Regions from separate parts of the Homo sapiens genome. Here region 2 is linked to region 1. The links come from fine-mapping of genetic effects on gene expression. A gene starts in region 1. The other region holds a variant in brackets. All regions are shown on one strand. Distances are from middle to middle.

Evidence for each region.
Region 2: its variant is fine-mapped to the expression of SETDB2 in B cells (Fairfax 2012, PIP 0.95).

Annotation. Positions count from the first base shown.
Region 1 is chr13:49,442,890-49,445,908 of GRCh38, forward strand. It overlaps SETDB2 (SET domain bifurcated histone lysine methyltransferase 2), which reads left to right and starts at 1,385. Exons shown (of 14, transcript NM_001160308.3): 1 at 1,385-1,968. CAB39L (calcium binding protein 39 like) reads right to left here and starts at 1,175. Exons shown (of 11, transcript NM_001079670.3): 1 at 1,097-1,175. SETDB2-PHF11 (SETDB2-PHF11 readthrough) reads left to right here and starts at 1,385. Exons shown (of 21, transcript NR_135324.2): 1 at 1,385-1,968. RefSeq lists enhancers at 553-622, 992-1,764, 1,003-1,082, 1,765-2,538 and silencers at 1,091-1,571, 1,243-1,292.
Region 2 is chr13:49,600,423-49,603,130 of GRCh38, forward strand. No RefSeq gene overlaps it. Among named protein-coding and RNA genes, the nearest start is that of RCBTB1, 16 kb to the left of the region's middle. The variant AT/A (reference allele first, on the strand shown) is at 1,234.

The DNA.
Region 1 (3,019 bases):
GATTAGGTTGTTCATCAGTTAATCTTGAATAACTGAAATCTAAGCTGAAGGCAATAATACATCGGCTTTCTTTTCATGCAAGTCAAACTGCTAAAATCTACCACAAAATATTAGCCTTTCATCAGCTTGGTCTTCAGATCCAATACATTTTCCCCTCAAATGAAAGACAATGCAATGCCATCCACAACAATGCTAAAAAAAAAAAAAAAAAAGGAGGAGGGAAACAAGGTTAAGTCCTGTCTTCTTCCTCCTACCCCAAAAAGAGCTCAGAAATTAAGGTGCTTTCCCTAACAAAGCCTCCTCCTGCTCCATGAAGTGACCAAGCATGTCATGGCAGACCCAGAGATTTATAATCTTCAACATATCGTTATCGGGGAAATCAAGATTTGACAAAATTCTTCCTTCACGCCCCGTTTCTGCAAGACCACCACTTTCTAGCTTAAAATAAAGAAAAAAAAAAGACAGCTGCAGGAATGCTTGGCTGCCCGCTAATGTACAATTTTGCCCAAACGCAGAACTTGACGCCCACTATTACCAAAGGATGGCCTTAGTAAAGTAACCCCCGCGAAGAGCAAACTGTTTAGCAGCCGCTCCCTCGAAAAGGACGGAAGAGGAGGTCTCTTCTGAACCTGAGGATAGTAGAGAGGCACTCCCCTTCCACTACTAGCTTTGCTCCTTTCTCAATCAGGCAGTTCATCAGCTAGCCTCCTTTGTCAAAGGGGGTTGATGGTCAGAATCTTTGCGAGACAAAAATTACTAAAAGAGCTCCCAGGAACCAATGTTAAGGCATCAAAGGCCCCGCCCAGCCCCCACAATGATCAACAAACCAAAACCTGGGATCCCTACTATTACCACCACCACAACCATCACCACCACCACCACCACCATTCCTCGCTCTCTCTAGCCAGGGATGAGACTCAGGCCCAGGAAACCCATCCTTTCCGCAAGTAGGAAGGCGCTGGGTCTCCTCCCTTAGGCCTCTCCTTTACCCCATTGTTCTCTCCGGACCCCTCCACTACGGCCAGGCGCTATGTATGTTTTCAACCCCCAAGAAGCCCAGTCCCAGCCACACACAAGATGGCAGCCTCACACCTACCGGAGGAAACAGCTGCGCCACCACTCCAGTGATGCCGGCCTCTCGACTACGAGTAACTCCATTGGCTCAGCTACAGTGCGCGAGACAAGCCGAGAGCGCTAGCAGTCAATCGGGAGGCGGCGCGCTCGGGCGCCACTGCGGTGCCAGCGGTAAGTGCGCCGAGTCTCTGAGGCGTGAACCAGTGGGGAGTGCGACCAATCAATGGGCTCCTGGCTGGGTGGTGGGACGGCCGGCGTCCGACTCCTCCCATGTAGTGATCGGTTTAGGTAGGTCGGCCTGGTCCCCGGCGGAGGTTACGCCTTCCCTCATCCCCGGTAGAGGCAGGGCGGGACTGTTGTGGTTGAGATGAAGGCTAGTAAATGGTGAAGTACTTCCCGGCCAGAGGGCACCTGCGCTCGGGAGGTTTGGGCGGCTTGGCGTCGGAGGAGAGCCCCACCCGCGGAGGAACCCAGCCTTGCCAACGGAGCTGGCGGAGCTCACTCCTCAGGTCAGGCGGGCGGCGTAGAAAACGCAGCGGAGCCAGGTGAAACCAAGGCACCGCCGTGGCTGGCCCCCGACAGTTCCTCTAGCCGGGAGGTTGGAGGAGCTGAAAACGCCGCGGAGCCCTCGGCCGCCCGAGCAGGGGCTGGACCCCAGCCCTTGCAGCCTCCCTTCTCCTGGCACCCAAGTGCAGTCCTGGCTGCAGAAGGGGCCGCGGGCGCACTGAGTTTCCAACCTCCATTTCAGCCTGTCTGTCTCAGGGTGCAGCCTTAATGAGAGGTGATTCCTAAGCTGCTGGGAACCTGAGGTTGTCAAAGGGGCGGCAGGAAATGGACAGCAGTATAAAACCCAGAAGCAGAACTTGAAGGTTAAACCACTAGCCCATTTCACAGGTAAGATTACACGAGCCCTTAAATACAGCAAGTTCAGTCATTCATCCAAGATCATGGAGTTCAGATTAGATAGTAACACTTCTGACTCGCTATCAGCCACAGCCCAATAAGTAATTAAGTAAGGAAAGATATGTAATTAACTGTGCTCTTTGGCATGTGGAAACCTGCAGTGAGCTCTGTAAATACTAACACATGAGGCCAAGGAGAGGAGTAAATTTGAAGAGGTCAAATGGAGTAACCAAAGCATAGGCTCTGAAACCATGCTGCCTGGTTCCTTATTTCGTGTCTGCCACTTACGGTATGGCATTCCTTAGCTTCCTCATCAGCAAACGAGCTGCTAATTTAACCCACATGACTGTTAGGGGGATTAAATAAGAACACGTGAAGTAGTTAGAAGCGTGACTAACCCGTGGTTCTTAAGCGTGACTTAACCCGTGGTTCTGTCGTTACAATTAAAACGTAAGGAGCCGAGAGGAAATGGTAAACGTGTTTTTAAAGCCTGTTTTAGAAACGAAAAGGAACCATACATTGAAGCAAAGCAGACTGGCTTAATTATTTTTCTACCAAAATGAAAAAGTGAGAAGGGGAAAAAAGTTTTTTAAGCCCATTTACTCTCTGAAATATTAACACCAGTTGTCTCTGGATGATGGGATGGTGTTTAAATTTTCTCCTTTATGCTTTATTGTATTTTGCAGATTTTCTCCAGGAAACATGTTTTACTTGTGCACGTTCAGTTTTCAAATTTTCAGGTGTGAACGCTGGTGAGAGCTGCTTAAAAACAAAGCTATGGGCCGGGCGCGGTGGCTCACACCTGTAATCCCCACACTTTGGGAGGCTGAGGCGGGCGGATCACCTGAGGTCAGGAGTTCAAGACCAGCCTGGCCAACGTGGTGAAACCCCGTCTCCACTAAAAACACAAAAATTAGCCGGGCGTGTGGTGGCGGGCCCCTGTAATCCCAGCTTCTCGGGAGGCTGAGGCAGGAGAATCGCTTGAACCCGGGAGGCAGAGGCTGCAGTGAGCCGAGATCACGCCACTGCACCCTTCTCACTG
Region 2 (2,708 bases), 160 kb after region 1:
TTATTTAACAAGTTATTCGCTTGATTTCTGACTTAAAAATTTTTAGACATATGGTATCCCCCATTTGTAATTTTGCACTGGGTGCTACGGATGTTCAGGATAGCCCCGAAAGTCACGTCATCTATAAAGAAACAACAAGAGACCGAAAGCTGGTTTCTTATTTCAAACAGTAGATAATGCACAGAGGATAATGCAGTATCTTCAAAATGAAAGGGAAAATTTCTGTCGGTTTAGAATTCCCTGTCTAGTTAAACTGGTATTCAAAAGTGAGGATAAAATAAAGACATTATCAAACCAAGACTAAGAGAATTTCCCACTCACAGACCCTTGCTGAAAGAAGTCCTGAAAGATGTAGTTTATTTATTTATTTTGAGACAGAGTCTTGCTCTGTCACCCAGGCTGAAGTGCAGTGGTGCAGTCTTGGCTTACTGCAACCTCCGCCTCCTGGGTTCAAGCAATTCTTCTGCCTCAGCCTCCAGAGTAGCTGCGACTATGTATGCACCACCGTGCCTGGCTAATTTTTTCGTATTTTTAGTAGGGACGGGGTTTCACCATGTTGGCCAGGCTGGTCTTGAACTCCTGACCTCAAGTGATCTGCCCGCCTCGGCCTCCCAAAGTGCTAGGATTATAGGCATGAGCCACCACGCCTGGCCAGGATGTAGTTTAGAAAGAGGAAAAATAAACCCAGCAGAAAGGATCAGTATGTGAGGCTTAATGATGAGCAAAGAAATTACTGATTTTTAGAGGATAAGCACAGAGTGGAACTAGACTAGTACCTAGCAATCAAGTGAAAGGTGAGAGGCAAGATTCACAGTTAAAACAGTCTAAGATCTTTATGATGTAAGGTATACAATTTAAACTTTTTCAGCTATAACTTTTTAGTTTTTTTTTATCTCAGAAAAAAATATGGAATGCTTCACGAATTTTTTATTTTTTTGTGTGTGGAGATGACGGGGTCTCACTATGTTCACCAGGCTGGTCTTGAACTGCTGGCCTCAAGCAATCCTTCTGCCTTGGCCTCCCAAAGTGCTAGGACTACAGATGTGAGCCACCTTACTGGGTCTCAGCTATAAATTTTAATATTTTTAAAGTAACTATGTTAAGCAAATATGCAAAAAGAAAGAAAAAAAGTGAATAGTTAGGATGAAAGACCCCTTCCCCCAGAAAAGCAAAACAAGTTTAGTTGTTAGTACATATAAAATAGTCCTCATTTCAATATGAGAAAAGGCACTG[AT/A]TTTTTTTTTTTTTTTTTGAGACGGAGTCTTGCTCTGTCGCCCAGGCTGGAGTGCAGTGGCATAATCTCGGCTCACTGCAAGCTCTGCCTCCCGGGTTCACACCATTCTCCTGTCTCAGCCTCCCGATAGCTGGGACTACAGGTGCCCGCCACCATGCCCGGCTAATTTTTTGTACTTTTAGTAGAGACGGGGGTTCACCATGTTAGCCAGGATGGTCTTGATCCCCTGACCTCGTGAACTGCCCGCCTCGGACTCCCAAAGTGCTGGGATTACAGGTGTGAGCCACCGCACCCGGCCTACTAATTTATTTTTTGTAAAACTCCTCTAACCCAAACCACTGGCTATAAAATACTACCACCTCTGCCATCATTGTCCCCCAAATACAAGTTATTTTTCATCTGTGAAGGAAGCTTTATGAGAGCTATTGCACTTTATTCTTATAAAACTCCATGAAAGATAGACATTAAAATGTTTGCAGAAATCTCATAAACTTGGCTTTTAAATGAATGAGTCAGTCATCAACAGCTATTTGCACAAAACTTTACTCTTTTCTCTGAGCAATACAAAGAAAACAGGACAGTCCCTCCCATGAAGGAGCTTAAAATCTGATTTGGCAGACGCAAGCTGTATAAACTCACCTGGAAATAAAACCTGGGATAGAAGACAGCAAATAGTAAAAGGCTGCAATTGGTATAACCCTTACATATCTTGGAAGGCTTTGACTCAATACATGAAATTTGAGCTTTAAGAGAGGTAGAATTTCGTTAGAGAAAACTGGGGACTGGCATAAGCATAAAGCACTAAAACAGAGAAAGGTGTTAGAGCCAAGACAGAAGATATTTTCAAAAAAGAAGGGTAGCTGGGTGTGGTGGCACATTTCTGTAGTCTTGTAACTGCCCAGTGGGTTCGTTTTCCTTGCTGCCCAGATAGAGCTGATTTATCCAGACAGGGGAGTCATGATACAGAGTTTAACTCACACAGAGCTGGCTGACAGGAGACCAGAGTTTTATTATTACTCAAATCAGTCTCTTCAAAGATTTAGAGACTAGGGTTTTTCAAAGACAGTTTGGTGGGTACAGGGCCAGTGAGTCGGGAGTGCTGATTGGTTGGATCAGAGATGAAATCATAGGGAGTCAAAGCTGTCCTGAGCTGAATTGGTTTCTGGGTGGGGCCCACAGGACTGGTTGATGAGTCCAGGTGGACCCATTGTTCATCAGAAATGCAAAAACCCAGGCCGGGCGCGGTCACTCACGCCTGTAATCCCAGCACTTTGGGAGGCCGATGTGGGTGGATCACAAGGTCAGGAGATCATGACCATCCTGGCCAACATGGTGAAACCCCGTTTCTACTGAAAATAAAAAAAAAAAATTAGCCGGGCATGGCGACGTGCACCTGTAGACCCAGCTACTCAGGAGGCTGAGACAGGAGAATGGCGTGAACCCGGGAGGCGGAGCTTGCAGTGAGCTGAGATCA